Homo sapiens: one gene and its partners. The protein of the gene in region 1 binds, or shares a complex with, the protein of each later gene. Each region holds a gene or a part of one and is shown in the gene's direction. Other genes may lie near its edges.

What was found.
Region 2: the proteins of VEGFA (region 1) and KDR are in contact, whole or in part, in a crystal structure (PDB 3V2A), measured with the Homo sapiens proteins. Residues at the interface, in NP_003367.4 of Homo sapiens: Pro246, Asp247, Ile249, Glu250, Ile252, Lys254, Met287, Ile289, Pro291, His292, Gln295, Ile297; in NP_002244.1 of Homo sapiens: His133, Val135, Tyr137, Ile215, Val216, Val217, Val218, Val219, Gly220, Tyr221, Asn253, Gly255, Ile256, Asp257, Phe258, Val273, Asn274, Arg275, Asp276, Phe288, Ser311, Gly312, Leu313.
Region 3: the proteins of VEGFA (region 1) and NRP2 are in contact, whole or in part, in a crystal structure (PDB 5DN2), measured with the Homo sapiens proteins. Residues at the interface, in NP_003367.4 of Homo sapiens: Lys392 (codon at 4,351), Pro393 (codon at 4,354), Arg394 (codon at 4,357), Arg395 (codon at 4,360); in NP_957718.1 of Homo sapiens: Tyr299, Ser300, Asp301, Trp304, Thr319, Asp323, Ser349, Glu351, Thr352, Asn354, Tyr356, Gly417, Ile418.

Annotation. Positions count from the first base shown.
Region 1 is NC_000006.12:43,780,198-43,786,992, forward strand, and holds the end of VEGFA (vascular endothelial growth factor A, long form), read left to right. Parts: intron 1-534; coding exon 535-606; coding exon of another isoform or gene 607-657; intron 658-1,758; coding exon 1,759-1,890; intron 1,891-4,343; coding exon 4,344-4,365; coding exon of another isoform or gene 4,366-4,431; 3' UTR 4,432-6,290; downstream 6,291-6,795.
Region 2 is NC_000004.12:55,122,588-55,130,004, reverse strand, and holds the start of KDR (vascular endothelial growth factor receptor 2 precursor), read left to right. Parts: upstream 1-4,409; 5' UTR 4,410-4,711; coding exon 4,712-4,778; intron 4,779-7,417. UniProt on the Homo sapiens protein: Tyrosine-protein kinase that acts as a cell-surface receptor for VEGFA, VEGFC and VEGFD. Plays an essential role in the regulation of angiogenesis, vascular development, vascular permeability, and embryonic hematopoiesis.
Region 3 is NC_000002.12:205,677,565-205,685,508, forward strand, and holds the start of NRP2 (neuropilin-2 isoform 2 precursor), read left to right. Parts: upstream 1-4,936; 5' UTR 4,937-5,726; coding exon 5,727-5,799; intron 5,800-7,944.

The DNA of each region.
Region 1 (6,795 bases):
CAGAGGTTCTGTCGCAGTTGCAAATGAAGGCACAAGGCCTGATACACAGCCCTCCCTCCCACTCCTGCTCCCCATCCAGGCAGGTCTCTGACCTTCTCCCCAAAGTCTGGCCTACCTTTTATCACCCCCGGACCTTCAGGGTCAGACTTGGACAGGGCTGCTGGGCAAAGAGCCTTCCCTCAGGCTTTGCCCCCTGCCGGGGACTGGGAGCCACTGTGAGTGTGGAGACCTTTGGGTCCTGTGCCCTCCACCCAGTCTCGGCTTCCCACCAAAGCCTTGTCAGGGGCTGGGTTTGCCATCCCATGGTGGGCAGCGTGAGGAGAAGAAAGAGCCATCGAGTGCTTGCTGCCCAGACACGCCTGTGTGCGCCCGCGCATGCCTCCCCAGAGACCACCTGCCTCCTGACACTTCCTCCGGGAAGCGGCCCTGTGTGGCTTTGCTTTGGTCGTTCCCCCATCCCTGCCCACCTTACCACTTCTTTTACTCCCCCCACCGCCCCCGCTCTCTCTCTGTCTCTGTTTTTTTATTTTCCAGAAAATCAGTTCGAGGAAAGGGAAAGGGGCAAAAACGAAAGCGCAAGAAATCCCGGTATAAGTCCTGGAGCGTGTACGTTGGTGCCCGCTGCTGTCTAATGCCCTGGAGCCTCCCTGGCCCCCAGTACAACCTCCGCCTGCCATTCCCTGTAACCCTGCCTCCCTCCCCTGGTCCTTCCCTGGCTCTCATCCTCCTGGCCCGTGTCTCTCTCTCACTCTCTCACTCCACTAATTGGCACCAACGGGTAGATTTGGTGGTGGCATTGCTGGTCCAGGGTTGGGGTGAATGGGGGTGCCGACTTGGCCTGGAGGATTAAGGGAGGGGACCCTGGCTTGGCTGGGCACCGATTTTCTCTCACCCACTGGGCACTGGTGGCGGGCCCATGTTGGCACAGGTGCCTGCTCACCCAACTGGTTTCCATTGCTCTAGGCTTCTGCACTCGTCTGGAAGCTGAGGGTGGTGGGGAGGGCAGACATGGCCCAAGAAGGGCTGTGAATGACTGGAGGCAGCTTGCTGAATGACTCCTTGGCTGAAGGAGGAGCTTGGGTGGGATCAGACACCATGTGGCGGCCTCCCTTCATCTGGTGGAAGTGCCCTGGCTCCTCACGGAGGTGGGGCCTCTGGAGGGGAGCCCCCTATTCCGGCCCAACCCATGGCACCCACAGAGGCCTCCTTGCAGGGCAGCCTCTTCCTCTGGGTCGGAGGCTGTGGTGGGCCCTGCCCTGGGCCCTCTGGCCACCAGCGGCCTGGCCTGGGGACACCGCCTCCGGGCTTAGCCTCCCATCACACCCTACTTTAGCCCACCTTGGTGGAAGGGCCTGGACATGAGCCTTGCACGGGGAGAAGGTGGCCCCTGATTGCCATCCCCAGCAGGTGAAGAGTCAAGGCGTGCTCCGATGGGGGCAACAGCAGTTGGGTCCCTGTGGCCTGAGACTCACCCTTGTCTCCCAGAGACACAGCATTGCCCCTTATGGCAGCCTCTCCCTGCACTCTCTGCCCGTCTGTGCCCGCCTCTTCCTGCGGCAGGTGTCCTAGCCAGTGCTGCCTCTTTCCGCCGCTCTCTCTGTCTTTTGCTGTAGCGCTCGGATCCTTCCAGGGCCTGGGGGCTGACCGGCTGGGTGGGGGTGCAGCTGCGGACATGTTAGGGGGTGTTGCATGGTGATTTTTTTTCTCTCTCTCTGCTGATGCTCTAGCTTAGATGTCTTTCCTTTTGCCTTTTTGCAGTCCCTGTGGGCCTTGCTCAGAGCGGAGAAAGCATTTGTTTGTACAAGATCCGCAGACGTGTAAATGTTCCTGCAAAAACACAGACTCGCGTTGCAAGGCGAGGCAGCTTGAGTTAAACGAACGTACTTGCAGGTTGGTTCCCAGAGGGCAAGCAAGTCAGAGAGGGGCATCACACAGAGATGGGGAGAGAGAGAGAGAAAGAGAGTGAGCGAGCGAGCGAGCGGGAGAGCGCCTGAGAGGGGCCAGCTGCTTGCTCAGTTTCTAGCTGCCTGCCTGGTGACTGCTGCCTTCTCTGCTTTTAAGGCCCCTGTGGTGGGCTGCAGGCACTGGTCCAGCCTGGCGGGGCCTGTTCCGAGGTTGCCCTGGTTGCCTGAGTGGTAGGCTGGTGTGGCTTAGTGTAGTGGTGTGGACGCAAGCTGTGTGTTGTGTCCTGTGGTCCTTCTGCTCATAGTGGCTGTTGGTCCTGATGTTATTACTACCTCTGGTAGTAATGCTGAGAAGCTGAAAGCCGATTCCAGGTGTGGACAATGTCAACAAAGCACAGATGCTCTCGCTGGGGCCTTGCCTCGGCCCTTTGAAGTCTGCATGGCTGGGCTTCTCACTCACTCAGTGTTTCTTGCTGGGGGAAGGAATTGAGTCTCCCACTTCAGACTGGGCCTCCCTGAGGAAAGGGTTGTGTCTCCCCACTCAGACTGAGGTTCCCTGAGGGTAGGGCTGTGTCTCTCCCCTCCGACCTGGGCTCCCTGATAGGGCTGTCTCCCCGCTCAGACTGAGGCTCCCTCAGGCCAGGGCTATGTCTCCCTCCTCAGACTGGGGCTCTGAGGGCAAGGGGTCTGGCTGTTCGTTTAGGATGGGGCACTTTTGCCTACACACTGAAGGAGCTGTAGCATCCAAGAATACTAGATACCTTTAATCCTCCACCAGTCATGGTGACAACCCCAAGCAGCCCACACATTTTCAAGTGCCCCCAGGATGCGTGGAGGGAGGGGTCTGTGCCCATTCTCCTGACATTAGCCTGTGAGCTCCGTAAGCCCGGGCCTCGTTTACGTACCTTTGTGAGCCCCGGGCATCTGTACCTCTTTCCTTTGCCCATACTGGGGACCAAGGAAGTGTCAAGTGCATGAGTGAATGTGTGACTCAGTTCAGAGGGTGAGGTCAGGAGCACAGGGTCGGGACAGGTGGCTGGCATCTTTTAATGCCTTAGCTTATGTTCTTTATACCAACTTGGCCTGTGCTCAGAGTGAGGGAGGCCCTGGGGGTCAGGGTAAGCGTCAGTCAGGGAGGCAAGACTTTGTGGGGATTTCCTAGACAGGGCCAAGGCACCCCCAGCTCACCCCGAGGCTGTGTTAGGGAAGTCCTTGGAGTGTCTCCCCTCCCCCAGCAATGTTCTTGTGGCTTGTGTGTGCTCAGGGGATGCTGGGAACCAGGCCTGGGTAGTTGGTGTGGGGTGCTGTCTGTCTTGGCCCTATGTGAAACCAAGAGGGCGTATATTAGTGCTGGGGTGGGGGCTCTGCCTAACTTCAGGGCTGGATGAGGGGAGTCTCAGTTCCCCAGGGGTCCTTGGGAAAGATAAGGGACTTGACATTTTAGGGTTTTTAGGTGATTATTCTGCTGATGGGGGTTTGTGTGAAGTGACCTGGGAGCTAACTGAAGTTACTCTAACCTCCCAATACCTTTACCCAACCCCCAAGCTGGCTGTATCTGGGAATATCAGTTTCCAAAATTGGAGGCTTAGGACTCCGTTTCGGGGCTCCCCAGAAGGGTAGGGCCTGTTCTGCCTCCTTCTCACAATCACCCAGGGGCAGGGGCATGCTGAGAAAGTTCTTGGAGGCCCCCTTTGCTTCAGCTGGAGTAGTGAAGCCGCCGAATTGTCTCTCCCCATCCTAAGTGAAGCAGCATATTTGAAAGGAAAGACAACCTGTTACCTGGGCCTGCAACCTCCAGGCAGCTCAAGAGAGATGAGGCCTACAGCCACAGTGGGAGGGGACATGGGGAATGGAGATGGTCCCTCACCTTCCTGGGGCCTCCTGCTCTACGCTACCCCCTCGGGAGCCTCCTGTCCCCAGGGCAGGCCCTTGCCATTGTTGGTCACCCGGCCAAGCCTCTCTGCCTCAGGCGTTCTCCCAGAAGATCTGCCCACTCTCTTCCCCACACCAGCCCCTAGAGACTGAACTGAAAACCCTCCTCAGCAGGGAGCCTCTTCTGATTAACTTCATCCAGCTCTGGTCACCCATCAGCTCTTAAAATGTCAAGTGGGGACTGTTCTTTGGTATCCGTTCATTTGTTGCTTTGTAAAGTGTTCCCATGTCCTTGTCTTGTCTCAAGTAGATTGCAAGCTCAGGAGGGTAGACTGGGAGCCCCTGAGTGGAGCTGCTGCTCAGGCCGGGGCTCCCTGAGGGCAGGGCTGGGGCTGTTCTCATACTGGGGCTTTCTGCCCCAGGACCACACCTTCCTGTCCTCTCTGCTCTTATGGTGCCGGAGGCTGCAGTGACCCAGGGGCCCCCAGGAATGGGGAGGCCGCCTGCCTCATCGCCAGGCCTCCTCACTTGGCCCTAACCCCAGCCTTTGTTTTCCATTTCCCTCAGATGTGACAAGCCGAGGCGGTGAGCCGGGCAGGAGGAAGGAGCCTCCCTCAGGGTTTCGGGAACCAGATCTCTCACCAGGAAAGACTGATACAGAACGATCGATACAGAAACCACGCTGCCGCCACCACACCATCACCATCGACAGAACAGTCCTTAATCCAGAAACCTGAAATGAAGGAAGAGGAGACTCTGCGCAGAGCACTTTGGGTCCGGAGGGCGAGACTCCGGCGGAAGCATTCCCGGGCGGGTGACCCAGCACGGTCCCTCTTGGAATTGGATTCGCCATTTTATTTTTCTTGCTGCTAAATCACCGAGCCCGGAAGATTAGAGAGTTTTATTTCTGGGATTCCTGTAGACACACCCACCCACATACATACATTTATATATATATATATTATATATATATAAAAATAAATATCTCTATTTTATATATATAAAATATATATATTCTTTTTTTAAATTAACAGTGCTAATGTTATTGGTGTCTTCACTGGATGTATTTGACTGCTGTGGACTTGAGTTGGGAGGGGAATGTTCCCACTCAGATCCTGACAGGGAAGAGGAGGAGATGAGAGACTCTGGCATGATCTTTTTTTTGTCCCACTTGGTGGGGCCAGGGTCCTCTCCCCTGCCCAGGAATGTGCAAGGCCAGGGCATGGGGGCAAATATGACCCAGTTTTGGGAACACCGACAAACCCAGCCCTGGCGCTGAGCCTCTCTACCCCAGGTCAGACGGACAGAAAGACAGATCACAGGTACAGGGATGAGGACACCGGCTCTGACCAGGAGTTTGGGGAGCTTCAGGACATTGCTGTGCTTTGGGGATTCCCTCCACATGCTGCACGCGCATCTCGCCCCCAGGGGCACTGCCTGGAAGATTCAGGAGCCTGGGCGGCCTTCGCTTACTCTCACCTGCTTCTGAGTTGCCCAGGAGACCACTGGCAGATGTCCCGGCGAAGAGAAGAGACACATTGTTGGAAGAAGCAGCCCATGACAGCTCCCCTTCCTGGGACTCGCCCTCATCCTCTTCCTGCTCCCCTTCCTGGGGTGCAGCCTAAAAGGACCTATGTCCTCACACCATTGAAACCACTAGTTCTGTCCCCCCAGGAGACCTGGTTGTGTGTGTGTGAGTGGTTGACCTTCCTCCATCCCCTGGTCCTTCCCTTCCCTTCCCGAGGCACAGAGAGACAGGGCAGGATCCACGTGCCCATTGTGGAGGCAGAGAAAAGAGAAAGTGTTTTATATACGGTACTTATTTAATATCCCTTTTTAATTAGAAATTAAAACAGTTAATTTAATTAAAGAGTAGGGTTTTTTTTCAGTATTCTTGGTTAATATTTAATTTCAACTATTTATGAGATGTATCTTTTGCTCTCTCTTGCTCTCTTATTTGTACCGGTTTTTGTATATAAAATTCATGTTTCCAATCTCTCTCTCCCTGATCGGTGACAGTCACTAGCTTATCTTGAACAGATATTTAATTTTGCTAACACTCAGCTCTGCCCTCCCCGATCCCCTGGCTCCCCAGCACACATTCCTTTGAAATAAGGTTTCAATATACATCTACATACTATATATATATTTGGCAACTTGTATTTGTGTGTATATATATATATATATGTTTATGTATATATGTGATTCTGATAAAATAGACATTGCTATTCTGTTTTTTATATGTAAAAACAAAACAAGAAAAAATAGAGAATTCTACATACTAAATCTCTCTCCTTTTTTAATTTTAATATTTGTTATCATTTATTTATTGGTGCTACTGTTTATCCGTAATAATTGTGGGGAAAAGATATTAACATCACGTCTTTGTCTCTAGTGCAGTTTTTCGAGATATTCCGTAGTACATATTTATTTTTAAACAACGACAAAGAAATACAGATATATCTTAAAAAAAAAAAAGCATTTTGTATTAAAGAATTTAATTCTGATCTCAAAGCTCCTCTTGGTTTCTCCTTCTCCATTGAATCCTTGCTCTAGACTTCCTCCCGCCCCCTTTCCCTCTTCCTCTGGGGAACATGGCATTTGTCTTGGGTCTGGGAAAGGTACGTCTAATGTGTAGGATATGGGGTGACCCACCTTGTTGTGCTGGGGGCAAAGTCCTTCCATTTTGGCTGAGCTGGTCCTGGGGGAACCCATCCATCCTGTCTTGATATAGAAGGTGGGAAGCTCTGGGAATGGGTGGAGGGGGAGAAACAGCTTAGGAGCCAAGGGCCCTTGCAATTGGTAGTGCTGCCTTCAGGAATTAGATGATCCAGGCCCCTGTCCCTTAGCCAGGGAAAGAACTGGCCATGTCTCCAAGCTTGCTGCCCAGGAGACAGGAGAGAGCTGTTTTTGTCTGTGGGGGTCTTGTTGGCTGCAACAGGCTGGGAGTGGGAGGGGGATGCTGCTGGAGGGCTGTGACTCCAGGGTGTAACTTAATTTTACATAGTTTTACACCCTG
Region 2 (7,417 bases), on another chromosome or scaffold:
TGGATATTTGGGTTGGTTCCAAGTCTTTGCTATTGTGAATAGTGCCGCAATAAACATACATGTGCATGTGTCTTTATAGCAGCATGATTTATAATCCTTTGGGTATATACCCAGTAATGGGATGGCTGGGTCAAATGGTATTTCTAGTTTAGATCCCTGAGGAATTGCCACACTGTCTTCCACAATGGTTGAACTAGTTTACAGTCCCACCAACAGTGTGAAAGTGTTCCTATTTCTCCACATGCTCTCTAGCACCTGTTGTTTCCTGACTTTTTAATGATTGCCATTCTAACTGGTGTGAGATGCTATCTCATTGTGGTTTTGATTTGCATTTCTCTGATGACCAGTGATGATGAGCATTTTCTCATGTGTCTGTTGGCTGCATAAATGTCTTCTTTTGAGAAGTGTCTGTTCATGTCCTTTGCCCACTTTTTGATGCGATTGTTTGTTTTTTTCTTGTAAATTTGTTTGAGTTCTTTGCAGATTCTGGATATTAGCCCTTTGTCAGATGAGTAGATTGCAAAAATTTTCTCCCATTCTGTAGGTTGTCTGTTCACTCTGATGGTAGTTTCTTTTGCTGTGCAGAAGCTCTTTAGTTTAATGAGATCCCATTTGTCAATTTTGGCTTTTGTTGCCATTGCTTTTGGTGTTTTAGTCATGAAGTCCTTGCCCATGCCTATGTCCTGAATGGTATTGCCTAGGTTTTCTTCTAGGGTTTTTATGGTTTTAGGTCTGACATTTAAGTCTTTAATCCATCTTGAATTAATTTTTGTATAAGGTGTAAGGAAGGGATCCAGTTTCAGCTTTCTACATATGGCTAGCCAGTTTTCCCAGCACCATTTATTAAATAGGGAATCCTTTCCCCATTGCTTGTTTCTGTCAGGTTTGTTGAAGATCAGATGGTTGTAGATGTGTGGTATTATTTCTGAGGGTTCTGTTCTGTTCCATTGGTCTATATCTCTGTTTTGGTACCAGTACCATGCTGTTTTGGTTACTGTAGCCTTGTAGTATAGTTTGAAGTCAGGTAGCATGATGCCTCCAGCTTTGTTCTTTTGGCTTAGATTTGTCTTGGCAATTCAGGCTCTTTTTTGGTTCCATATGAACTTTAAAGTAGTTTTTTCCAATTCTGTGAAGAAAGTCATTGGTAGCTTGATGGGGATGGTATTGAATCTACAAATTACCTTGGGCAGTATGGCCATTTTCACGATATTGATTCTTCCTATCCATGAACATGGAATGTTCTTCCATTTGTTTGTGTCCTCTTTTATTTCATTGAGCAATGGTTTGTAGTTCTTCTTGAAGAGGTCCTTCACATCCCCTGTAAGTTGGATTCCTGGGTATTTTATTCTCTTTGAAGCAATTGAACTTCCACAGTTATTAACCTTTGACAAATCTTCATATAACTTGTTAAGACATGGAGTCCAAAATACTGTTGGTAATGTAACCAAATTTGGAGATCATGGAGAGTAATTTATGCAGTGTGCTTTGAGTATGAACAATGTATATTCTGTATGTACAAGCCCAGAAAAGTAGCTGGAGACAAGAAGTGCTTAAAGATTAAATTAAATTTGTCTTGGGTGAGGCTATTACAATGATTCCTCATTTAAGCTCATCTTGACATTATTTTCACCATCGTAACCCCAGTTCCTGGTTCAATGCCTAGCATATAGTAGGTGCTCAAAAACTGTTGAATGAATGAGCCTGCTTAGCAGTTTAGATCTCAGCAGCATGAAGAAGCCCATGCATTGTAGTATAAGCAACCTTTGCAGAATGTTTCTTAATGTGTATCTGGTGCTTTCTATGTCCAAGATCTTTACTAGCTGTGTTGGGGCCTACTCCAAGTGCCTTACATGCAGTAACTCCTTTAATTCTTGTAAGAACCCTATGAAGAAGGTACTATTATAATTTTTTTTGTGTTTCATAGATAAGTTACTTGTAAGTTGGTAAAGATCACACAGATCATAAGCGGTAGATCTGGGAATAAAATCCAGAGTCTGTGCACTTAGCTACTACTCTGCTGTGGCATCTGAATAGCATCTATGGAACACTCAACACATTTGGGGCACTTTGCTAGGTGCCTTACTGTTGGGTTAACTCACAAAAGTCACTCCTTTGCAATGCCAGATAACGAGAGGGTGCTGCACATGGAACAGCCTTTCTTTCTTTCTTTTCTATCTTTTTTTTTTTTAACAGACTTTGCCATTTTTTTTGTGAACCTAAGGCACTTCTAAGTGCTGTGTGGGAGGGAATGTGGTAGACTGATTTCATTGAGACTCTGCCAAATTCTGGTCTTGCGGCCATCAAAGACGCATCATTTCCTCCAAGACTTCTAAAGGGGGCTATTACCACGGGCCTGCAGGTTCTGGTTTGCATTCAGAGGAGACACTATCTTCTTAAATGAGACATGGAAGAGGAAGTGTCATGAACTGTAAATAAGGCTGATAGGGAATTGTTTGGTGATGGGGATGGAGAAAAACTGCCCTCTCCAAACCAGGTTCCATCTCCCACCCCTTTATCCAACTTTGCCAGAGTCCATCCTATTTTATTTGCTGAGTTTACTAGCAGGAAGAGAGGAGTTTCTTTAAAGATTCTCTCCCCTCCCCAAATAAATACCTCCCAGATAAATATGAGTACATCTATATAGTAGAGCACTATGCCAACATTGAAAAGATGGAAGGATGGAGCTTTGTTCGCAGCCAGCTTAGGCAACATAGTGAGACCCTGCCTCTATATAAAAATAAATAAATAAATAAATAAATAAATAAATAAATAAAAGATGGAGCTTTAAAGGTTGATGTAGAACGAATCTCCAGTGTATATTATAAAGTGAAGGCTGGGCAGGGTGGCTCGTGCTTGTAATCCCAGCACTTTGGGAGACTGAGGCAGGAGGATGGACTGAGTCCAGGCATTGGAGACCAGCCTGGGCAACATAGTGAGACCTTGTCTCAAATAAATAAATCAAATTTAAAGGGAAAAAAGCCAAGGCTCAAATAGCATTTATACCAAGCAATTGTGGGAAGAGAAGGGTGACATGTCTACATACTTGTGTTTAAGAATCTGCTTGGAAAAAAAAGGAAACATAAAAATGCCTCTGCCAAAAGAAAAGTCTTTTCACTCTAAGCCTTTTTGTGTTTTTCCAAAATTTTTTTTTGCCATATACATTCATTATATTTCAGCATTAAAATATTTCACCTGTCAACTTGGAAAAGTAAAAGCGTGAATACAGTAAATATTTAAAAACAGATGAAGATAAGTAACAGGTTACATTAATTGTATACAATCAATCTAGTTTGAATTAGGTGTAGATATAATAATTCTGTGTGTTTATCTTGGTGAAGAATGGTCCTTTAGGTTGTCATTAAAAAGCACCTCTGGGAGGTAAAAGACATAGGCATCTGGAAGATTCATATTTAATGAAGTTAGGGGACATTTGATGTCACTCCCCAGGTGTGGGGAGATATGGACAGAAAACCAGAAGGAACGAATGTGGTCAGGAAGGAATTGGAGTTCCCCTCCAAACAGCTGCCACAAGAAGTCCACACACGTGGAGACAGTTGTGCAATTTGGTCACAGAGTGTCCTAGGTGCTTTTGCTTCATTGCTCCTCCACTGAAGCACGCTGGCAGCTGGCCTCCTTCCCCTGGGACTAAGGATATCTTGGCTGGAAGCTCTGCTCTGAAAAGGGGCATGGCCAAACTTTCACTAGGGCTCTTCGTTGGGGAGCACGATGGACAAAAGCCTTCTTGGGGCTAGGCAGGTCACTTCAAACTTGGAGCCGCCAAATATTTTGGGAAATAGCGGGAATGTTGGCGAACTGGGCAAGTGCGTTTTCTGATTAAGAGCAACCAGATTCAGCTTTTTAAACTACAATTATACTGGCCAAACAAAATACCCTTATACAAAAACCAAAACTACTGGCAGGAGTCGCTGCCAGCTTGCGACCCGGCATACTTGGCTGAGTATCCGCTTCTCCCTTGTGGCTCCAAACTGCTGCAGATTCTCGGCCACTTCAGACGCGCGCGATGGCGAAGAGGGTCCTGCACTTTGACGCGCCTGGTGAGGGAGCGCTGCTCTTCGCAGCGCTCCTGGTGATGCTCCCCAAATTTCGGGGACCGGCAAGCGATTAAATCTTGGAGTTGCTCAGCGCCCGTTACCGAGTACTTTTTATTTACACCAGAAACAAAGTTGTTGCTCTGGGATGTTCTCTCCTGGGCGACTTGGGGCCCAGCGCAGTCCAGTTGTGTGGGGAAATGGGGAGATGTAAATGGGCTTGGGGAGCTGGAGATCGCCGCCGGGTACCCGGGTGAGGGGCGGGGCTGGCCGCACGGGAGAGCCCCTCCTCCGCTCCGGCCCCGCCCCGCATGGCCCCGCCTCCGCGCTCTAGAGTTTCGGCACCAGCTCCCACCCTGCACTGAGTCCCGGGACCCCGGGAGAGCGGTCAATGTGTGGTCGCTGCGTTTCCTCTGCCTGCGCCGGGCATCACTTGCGCGCCGCAGAAAGTCCGTCTGGCAGCCTGGATATCCTCTCCTACCGGCACCCGCAGACGCCCCTGCAGCCGCGGTCGGCGCCCGGGCTCCCTAGCCCTGTGCGCTCAACTGTCCTGCGCTGCGGGGTGCCGCGAGTTCCACCTCCGCGCCTCCTTCTCTAGACAGGCGCTGGGAGAAAGAACCGGCTCCCGAGTTCTGGGCATTTCGCCCGGCTCGAGGTGCAGGATGCAGAGCAAGGTGCTGCTGGCCGTCGCCCTGTGGCTCTGCGTGGAGACCCGGGCCGCCTCTGTGGGTAAGGAGCCCACTCTGGAGGAGGAAGGCAGACAGGTCGGGTGAGGGCGGAGAGGACCTGAAAGCCAGATCTAACTCGGAATCGTAGAGCTGGAGAGTTGGACAGGACTTGACATTTTGCGATCTTTCATTTACCAGTGGGGAAACTGAGGCTCAGAGACTGGCCCAAGATTACCCAGCGAGTCTGTGGTCGCCTGTGCTCTAGCCCAGTTCCTTTTCTAGGACTCTGGTTTGCGACAGGGACCTCGGCTGGAGCATGTCCTGAGATGCCGACACACCCTCAGGCTCTTGGGAGGCTGGGGTGGGAAGGCGCCTGGGGTTGGCAGGCAGGAGGTGCCTCCGCAGGCGAGAACAGGCGGTGAAAAGTTGTCTGGCTGCGCGCAACATCCTAGTCCGGGCCCGGGGAAGAAAACCTTGCCGGAATCTCAGGCCGGGTCTCCCGGATCGGACGGTACACTCGGTTCTGCCTCTTTGCGGGACCCGGCCCGTTGTTGTCTTCATGCTCGAACACACTTGCACACCACTGTGTGAAGTGGGGTCTGGAGCGGAGAGAAACTTTTTTTCCTTCCTTGGTGCAGGACGCCGCTCTCCTTGCAGAGCGAAGAAGGGGGGGAATAGGGACTTGTCCTGGGGGCTTTGACAGCTTCCCCAAGGGTCTCCAAGTAACAGCCAACTGTCCTGCGTAAAGCATTGCACATCTTTCAAAGCGCTGTGGTCCTTGGTGTAAGCGCATAGTCAGAAGTTCAAGCTCCGAAAACCTTTCCTGTGGGCCTTGGTACCTAGCTTTAGTGCCATTCCTTCCTCTCCCTGCCGCCTAAAATTTCCGTCTCCTTCAATTAGGAACACACACGTTCTTCATGCAATAGCTGTCTGTCTTTTCTTCCTCACTTTCCTTTCTCTCTCAACCCCTTAGATAATATTTCTTTCCTGCAGCCAGTTTGCTGATATCCAGATTTCCACCCTTTGCAGGGTGAGAAAGGGGAAAGGGTCAGAGAAAGAAAAAAAAAAAGTCGAATAATTCAGGGAAAAAAATTTCTTACTCCCTAAGACAAGAATCACATGTCTTAGAAGACACTCACACCCACATACAGTACCAGGATCATCTGTCCATGGTTACTGAATTTTCTTTATAATGACTTGGTTCAACGGGTCCAGTCCACCATGGACACTCATTTGTCCCAGACAAGCCCTCTCTCTCCCCCTTTCTGGGCAGAGAATGAAGGTCTGGAACATGTGGTTGCTCTGTATTCCACAAAGAAGTGAGTTGCTTTTAAGCCTGGGGTGTTTCCTAGCGTAGTAGTAACGGCAGGCCGGTCGCCCTGAATATAATGGTGAACTTGCCCTTTTGGAGTGCATTACTTGCTTAATTGGATTGGGCTGTAATTGGTGCCATCAAATTCTAGAGACAGAGGCACTGTTGTTTTTCCTTCCCGTCTTTGAGCTGGAAGGGTAACAGTGCACAAATTAATTAATATTGGTTATGGGATTTGAACATAGAAGGGCTTTTTATTGAGTAGTAGCATGTGTACCTCTTACAGTTATTTCTTTAGAACTTTCTGAAGAGTCCAGCTCAAGCTTGCCAATGAAAACGAATGACATTTAATGGAGCAAAAACAAAAAACAAAAAACTATGTTGGTCTACAAATATGAATTTGAAGTTATTGAGAGCCTTGTTGAATAGATTTTTGTTGTAAACGTGTCTCTAGAATAGTATGGCATAGTCTCAGCTTCCTATGAATGAAGGACATACCTTTTCTTTTTTAAAATATTTGTTACACAGGAAAGTGTGTCTAGAATGTGATCTGTGGCAATAAATTATGAGAGACCTTCAAGAGTTTCTGATTTTGGTAGCCGAGTGGGCACAGTTTATTGAGAATCATTTTTACTGCCATTTGTTTTCTCACAAGAATGTGCCCAAATAATGGTTTTTTTCTCATTTGGATGGCAGTGTGAATTGTACATCATGTTTTCAGCATCTTTCTCAACCTAGTGTTCCCCAGTCAAGTTTGAAATCTGTGTTATCCAAATGAATTGTTTTCATTTTCCTTTTCTTAGACAAAGTGGGACTCCAGGTTTCATTTTGCTTTTAAACATTTTGGTTTTTTGTTTGCCTGTTTTGGGGGCAGTTATTTCTTTCATATTAAAAAGTACTGTGCAGGCTGGGTGCAGTGGCTCATTCCTGTAATCCCAGCACTTAGGGAAGCAGAGGCAGGAGGATCGCTTGAGTCCAGGAGTTCAAGAAGTGCCTGGGCAACATAGCGAGACCCCATTCTCTATTTAAAACATAAATGTAACCCCCGTTCCACGCACAAAGTACTGTGCAAATTAATTAAACATGACCACCCAGACCAGCAACTGTCCAAGAGTGGCCCATAGACCATCTGTGGTAGGATAATTTGAAATGCTTGTTAAAATGCAGATTTGTAGACCCAGGGATATTCTGACAGAGTCTAAAGTCTTAAGAACAAAACTGTTCTAAACATAAGTCAGTACCAATGCCAGTTAATTTCTGAGATATATTGATATAACTTAGTTTCCAGTTTTTTAAAAACCATATTATTGACTTAAAAACCATGATATTGACCAGTTATGTCAGTAACTTATTTTGCACATCTGTGTGGTGTGTGAGAACATGTGCAG
Region 3 (7,944 bases), on another chromosome or scaffold:
AGACCCTGACTCCTGGTGAGTGCTCTGGGAAAGTCATCCAAGAGAGCGTAGAAAGAACATGGGATGATAGACAATAATATGAATATAAGCTAGCTCTTCTCTTCCTTAACCAAACAGACAGTGAGCATTTTCAAATGCTGCCTTGGTAATCAGAACTTCTGCTGATACTGGGGTTCCTTTCTTGGCAAACAAGTATGGTAACCACAGAGATTGATAAGGGTGTGAATTTCTATGGGTTTCTATGGGAATTATTCAGCTCTGGTCTTTTGATTCTGAGGCTGAGTTGTCCAACATGGTAGCTGGTAAGCACATGCGGCAATTTACATTTAAATGAATAAAATTAAATACAACCTACAGTTCAGTGACTCACTCACACTAGCCACATTTCCAGTGCGCAGTAGCCATGTGAACAGCACAGAGACCACCGTCCTTGCAGAAGATTTAATGGAGAGTGCTGTTTTAAGGGAGAGGGTTGACTGGGTCTTTTTGATACGCTTATTGCCTCAAAGGTAGAAAAATTAATGTAGCATAGGAAGATCAGACTCATGCTAAAGCCAGGCAGACTGGAAGAAGCAATAGGGCTTCTTTAGGTTCTTTTTCCAAGGATTCCAGGGAGGTCTGAATGAATTTTGCACATTTTGCTGCTGCTTTTTAAATTTTGTTTCATAAGGGCCCCTCCTACCAGATCCAGTGTTTGTGTCTGAGGAAGAAATGAGATATACACCCAGTATGGAGTGAAGGAGATTTCAATACTTTATGGAAATCTGTAAGGATTCCAGAAACCCACCAAATAGAATATACTAGAAATATCAATTTAGAATAGAAATGTCAAATAGAAACTACTGGGCAATATTCAAGTGTGCTGGAAAAAAAAAAAGTTGATTGTTTAAAAGGCGAGTAAGAAAAAAAAAAAAACCCTTAGTGACCAGAAACCTGGACTTTGACATCAAACAAAAGAGAGAATAATAAATTAGGACCTATTCCATTTTAACTGAAGCTTTGCTTCTGAGACAGATGTAGCTAAACCTTAACTAGGGCAGTGTGTTAAATTACAGATTAAGATGCAATTATGCCTTAGATCTTTCCTTTTCAGGGTGAGAGCTTATTGATGTTAGGGCTCCGATAAGGGGAAGCACCATGTGACACGTGATATCTATTGTGGAAGCATGAAACTTCTGGAGCTTTTAGATCCTGTGTTCCCGAGAGGCAAGACCTAAATCTCTGTCTTGCTCGCATACCTCTGGCATAGTCATGCATCCATGAACATTTCGTAAGTACAGTGGGATGAACACAGATGGAAAAGCATACCTGAAACGAACCTCTAGTAACCACCAATGGTTGAGTGGGCTGGTGATGAAAGGTCTGGCTCCAGCTCATAAACCCATCAGCCGCTACTTTGAACATGTCCCTGCAAAGCTCCTGCCTGCATGAGGCGAGGCTTTTGGTGTTTTCAAATTGGCTCTCTGCAGTTGCTGCTAAAGGTCACAGGTAAATCTGGGAATTCCACCACTGCAGCATTTTCGAGAACTTGTTCTTGGTGGTTTTTCCAAGAAACCTGAAACATCTGCCCCATATTGAAAAGTACCCAGAGAGGAAATGTGAAGGAATGCTTGTCCAGGTTTCCTTCAACGGAAGAGCATTTATGGAAGGCTGTGTGTAAATAGAACACATCAGATCAGAAGTTCCCAACTACTGGTCTGTGGAGGCTTTGCATCAGAATCACCTAAGATGTGTGTTAAAAATACAGATTCCCAAAGACCACTCCAGACCCAAGGAATTTCACCTGCAGGAAAATGGTTCCCAGGAATCAGAATTTTTAACACTTCCTCCAGGTGATGCTGATATACCCTAAGGTTTGGGACTGTCTAGCTGGGAACACTTAACTTTCCACAGGGGTGTGGCTTGGTAACAGCTTTCTCTTAGCATCATTTACCAACCTGTTTCATGTTCCCCCACATCCCTTCCCGTCAAAGGAATGGAATGTGGAGTGGATTATCTAGTATTATTTTACAACTAAGGATAATGACATGAAACATCCTAGGTGAGTCAGTGATGTGGCCAGGAATCTCAGCTTCGCTAATTAGCTGTTATCTAGTCAGCTCAGTGTTTTTGATCACAAACCCGATTTTTGACACTGGCCTTTAGGTAGGCAGGCTTCCCTATGGGCCAGGGATGTGGACTCACAAAATACTGAAAAGCACGGTGCCTACCTAGCTCTTTACCACTATACCTCTGGTGGAAACCAGACCAACTGCAGTCAAACCCTGAGATCCCAGTCTAGAGGGAAACAAGACTGGCAGGTCTGAGCCAGTCCCAGTGTGAAGAATTTCCCTAAAGATTTGTTTTCCATGTGGCACATGTGAGATTTGTGTTTAGTTCCCAAGAGTCCTTGGAAGTCTTAGGTTAAAACAATTCTAAGCCCTCTCTGGGCCGGTGGGGTCTTGTTCAGAGTAGGCTGGGGAGAGATCGGCCTCACTCTGAATCTTCCCTGGTCTGATAAAGCACTTTGAACTCCTTGGAATTAAAAGCACCACCAGAAGTGTGACCCTGGGTGGTGTTACCATTATTTATTGAGTGCTGCCCCCTAGAGGATTGAAAAATGGTCTGGCCGCTTGAGTCCCCAGGGATGGAAACCTGAGACTCACTCTCTGTCCAACTGCAGGAAATGAGGCCTTCACTCAAGGGGAGTGGGAAGTCTTGCAGCCCTGGTACAGAGGACTCCCAGGAAGTAAGTGAGCGTCCCCTGTAGGACACCGCTGAAAAATGAAAAGTTACAGTGTAGGCAACCAGGCCAGGAACAAAACTGATTCTTACTTTTCTCTACTCTGGAAGCAGCCTGATGGGGACCTTCATCCCTGAGACCCCAAGACCAGAAGTCCAGGGTTGTCATTCTTATGGTTCTCCAGTGGGCTTAGGTTTACCTTTTCTCTCTTCTTTCCCCCTTTCACAGTGCCCTTCACCTAAACCCTGGCTACATTATTCTCACAAACAGGAGTCTCCCACATTGGGCACTGGCAAAAATGGTTTGGCATGCCTGGTGAGTGGTGGGGAGAGGTGATATTAAATGGCCCTCTCTATTCAGGGACTGTCACTACAGATAGCGTTCTTTGTCCTTAGATTAGCATCTTGGCAATGACATAAACCGGGATCTCTGCTTAAGGTTAATAATCCAAACTGCTCTTTTACTTTGTTAAATATTTAAGGCTTGGAGTCATTCTTTACAATTGAGCTTTAAAGAGGAGAAATGTAAATCTGGAGTTTTTAATAATGTGGATGTGCTCTCAAGCCTAGAAAGGAAGGAAGAAGGAAGGAAAGGAGGGAGGAAGAGGAAGGAGGGAGGCAAAGAGGGAATGAAAGGTAGCATTTAGGCTAGCCAAGAGACATGCTCCCTGGAAGAACTCAGAGGCCTCTGTGCTGTGCCTTTCCCAACCAGGCATCTGAGATTAACAGTGTGATACTCAGCCTGTGGATTTCCACTCTAAAATCCCGCGCCACCCCCCAACACAGCTTGGCTCAACTATTTGCAAATCACTTCTGATTCAATTTTGTTTTGGTTATCTCAGTGTAAATAACAGTTAAGTGGGAGTTACAGATTTTTCAAACACTAAAAGTGATAAAGCTAATGGGCAAGTCCAGATAAGGAGGGAAACCACCCAGAAGAATCCACAAGTACAAGCCAAGAAGAAAATGGGTAGTCAGGTGTGTGTTTCTCGTCACCGAAACTGTATTTTTCTTAATCTACAGAAAATTTTACTTTCTTAATTTAAAAAAAATCTTAATCTGTAAATATTTTTCTGAATTTTCTTATTTTTCATATACCTCTTTTGTGGCAGAAAAGGTGTACATGTGCAGGGTGTAATTTAGGCTGTTTCTGTTGCAGTCTTTATGATAATGTAGTAATAGGTGTCTGGTGAAGCAAGACAGTTTGGAATCCACAAAGCCATCCTCAGAAACAAAGATACAAGTGTTTCCCCAACTGTTAGCTTGCAGTTCCCTCTAAACAGTTTTCACGCCTCCATTTAAAAATAGTTGGCATAATGATGTTTTCTTTCTCTAGGCTTTGTGACCACGTTTCCATGGGGGAAAATGTGAATAGACGTAGTTACAGTAGCATTTGGATGAGACGCCTTCAAGCACCTATACTTTTTCGGGGGAACTTGATGGAATCCAATTTAATTACCTGAAGAAATTATTTGCTGAAGAAAGTCTTTCCTCTTTTTAGGGTAGTTACAGTTAAAGGCGCAGGGGTAACGAAATCCTAACCCAGAGAGGAGCAGAGCATGTTTGGGACATAACAAAGGATCTGAGTAGTAAACGCAGCGAGTGTTTGGGGTTTTATTCAGACCGGGCTGACGGTGTGTGTCGCCGCCACGCACCGCTGCCTGTTCGAACGCATGGCTGAGCTGCCGACCGGCTCGCTACCCCAAACACCGTACGCCACCCAACTCCTCTTGTAACGCCATCGCGCGTGGCATTGTGTTGGGTTCTGCGTGTGTGGCATCGGAGTCGTGGAATTTAGGGGGAACAAGGCTTTTCCCCCCGTCCCCCCGGGGTCTCCCTTGGGTGGGGGCGACACGGCCAAGGCGGCGCGCCCTGGGGGTGCCCGGGGGCGCTTCTTCCCCAGGGCGTTACGCACCGGCGGCCCGGCGCGGAGGTGCGCGGGGGCGATCGGGAGATGCGGGGCGGGCGAGGGGTGGTGGGATGGGCGCCGCCTTAACTTCGATCCTGCGGCGGCCCGAGAGAAGCCGTCGCCGCCCCGCCCGAGCTGGGTGCCGCGGCACTCTGCTCTGCGCCGCGCGTCTCCGCGGCTGCCTCTTTAATCAGGAACACAGAAGGGGCGGGCCCTGAGCCGGCGCGTAATCGGATAGCTCTGCCGCGGCTCTGACATCCACATGCTGCTCGGCCTGAAAAGGCAGTGGGGAGCCGGAGGGGAGGCAGAGATCGCGAGCGAGGCACCAGCCTGCAGCCGGCCCCCAGCACATCCTCAGCCGCACAGACACTCGGCGAGGTGGAGGTGAGGGCGGGCGCCAGCGAACTCGGAGAGGGGCTCGCTCACTCCCAGGCGATCCCAGCCGCCACCGCCGCCGCACCAGCAGCAGCAACAGCAGCAGCAGCTTCCTTCCTCAGACTCCCCTCGAGAGGCTGGCCAAGCGGGTGTAGCCGTTGGGGGAGGCTCCCGCCGGGGGAACCCGGCGAGGACAAGAGCAGGGCGGCCGCCTTCCACTCGGGCTGTCCGGCGGCGGCTGCCTCCGCCCGTGTGTCCGTCAAGGGTGCCGCGGGATGTGTGTCAGTTTACGCCTCTGAGATCACACAGCTGCCTGGGGGCCGTGTGATGCCCAAGGCAAGTCTTGGTTTTAATTATTATTATTATCATTATTGTTACGCTTGGCTTTCGGGAAATACTCGTGATATTTGTAGGATAAAGGAAATGACACTTTGAGGAACTGGAGAGAACATATATGCGTTTTGTTTTTAAGAGGAAAACCGTGTTCTCTTCCCGGCTTGTTCCCTCTTTGCTGATTTCAGGAGCTACTCTCCTCCTGGTGAGGTGGAAATTCCAGCAAGAATAGAGGTGAAGACAAGCCACCAGGACTCAGGAGGGAAACGCTGACCATTAGAAACCTCTGCATAAGACGTTGTAAGGAGGAAAATAAAAGAGAGAAAAACACAAAGATTTAAACAAGAAACCTACGAACCCAGCTCTGGAAAGAGCCACCTTCTCCAAAATGGATATGTTTCCTCTCACCTGGGTTTTCTTAGCCCTCTACTTTTCAAGACACCAAGTGAGAGGCCAACCAGGTAAGCCACTGAAAGTTTTTCTATTTATTGCAACATGGTTTCCCCTTTAAAAGTGACCGCTAAAGCAGGAAGGCCACGCAGAACGGCACAGAAGAAGGCTCCCTCAGTACTCAATAATTTAAAGAGAGATCCCAGCCGGCCCTTCCTACACCACCACGGCTGCTAAAACCCAACTTTCCTCTCCTGCTAGGAGTGTGTGTGTGTGTGTGTGTGTGTGTGTGTGAGTGTGTTTTGAAACAGAATTTGGCGGTGTTCATATGTCACATATGGACTGAATCAAAGGTTTAAAAATACTACAAAGCCTTTGCATTACAGTTTTTGGGAATTTTTTTTCCCTGTCTTGAAGCAGAACACATCTCCCTTGAGTTTCTCCAACTAGCCAGTGAAATATAAATCATTTGCATTCCCTCCACTTAGCTACATTGAGCAATGTTAACTGAAGGGCTTGGGAAAGACAAGAGTTTAGTTTTGGTTTTCAGATGCTGTAGATTCTTTGGAGAATGACTGGTTATGCTTCAGAATCATAAGGCTCAGGCTGGTGGAGCAAGTTGGCTTGTGGCTGAGATAGGGGCTTGGGGTTGGGTGCTGCTGGCAACCAAGACGGTTGGTCTCTTCTCTCTTCATCCATGTGTTGTCTGGGAAAGTAAATCGTACGTTCTTTTAGAAATTATTATTAGCTAAAACAAATTGCAGGCCCTCGAAGGTCTCTCACTCTTGTGAAGTGGTTAGAAACTTTTGAGTGGAATTTGTTCTCAACCACTGCCAAAAAGGGTGTGTGGACAGGCTGCTGTGGAGATAAGCATTTCGAGGCCCAGAACAGTCTGGGGACCGCATTTGTGGGGAGCGGCAAGGGGTATGCTCTGGAAAGGGGAATCCATGGGGAATGCAGTGGGGTTTGTGCTTCCTTCTCGGACCACTCTCTAGAGTGAGCCTCCCTACCCCTCTGAGAACAGTGTCTGGAATCTAACAACAAAACTCTTAGCAGCTGCTACAGGTGATTGGAGATGGAGAAACCATCTATGGAGGAAATGGGTGAAAGAAAGGCGAAAAAGCCTTCCTGAAGTGCCCTCACCCAAGGCACTTGCAAGGCGATGGCGGCAGTGGTAGAGCTAACTCTGCAGCCTCCTTGGCATCCCCAGAACATCAGCTAGTGGATCCTAGCCTTGCATCTGGTACTGTCACCCTTCCTTCTCCTCACGCCCCCCACCAGCACACACACCACTTTAAGCTTGGGCATTTATTTGAGGGGGGAAGAAAATTCAGGAATGCCTTTGCCACCCAGATCCGCACGTTTGCAGCTCTTTCTTTGCCATAAGTGGTCTTCAGGGCAGCTGCAAATCCTGCCAAAGGGATGGGTGGGGGTCCCACTTGGGGAGATTTTCTGGGCCTCCGCCGTTCCCCCTTGCCTTATTTCTAAATTCCCAGCTTGAAGCGGAATTAAATTACCACTCACAGACCTGGATGCTGCGTAAATTATGTATGTTTGTGTGATTCGCTGTGTGTGTGTGCACACGCGCGCGCGCCGTGAGGATGCCCACAGTATATTATGTATTCAGACACGGACTCCAGTAGGCCCCAGCGCGCGAGCGCGCACACACTGGCACTCACACTGGCGCGCACACACATGCAACTTCAGGTTCCGTGTGCTGTGCGGAGCGGGAGGGGTCGTGAAGACTCAGGGGCCATCTCCTACCCCAGATGTTCGCACATCTGTCCCCGAGCGCTGCTTGGAGTGTGTGTACGTGTGTGCGCGACACCCGCTTGGACCCACTCCCGCTCTGCCACCTGCCTGCCGCGCTCTCTGCAGAACCCCCTCCCATCCCAATCCCCAGCAGTGCTGCGTCACTTCCAGAGAAGCCCAGAGGCGCGGAGTTCGGGGCAACCTCGGACCCGGGGTGGGATCTCAGGGTGGGATTCGAAGCTGGGACCTGCCAGGGACCTCCAGCTCCCCAAAATGCGATCTCAAGCCGTGAGCTGCTCAGGCTTTCAGGCGGAGCAAAGCACTGGCACCCTGGGAGCCGGCAGCGGGTGGCCAGGGCGAGGCCAAGCCACATACCTCTGACTCACCCGGTGTGCGCCGGCCGGGAAGGGGGCCTGGTTCAGCCGCCGCCGCCGGCGACGAGAACCAATTCTGGGAAGGAGCAA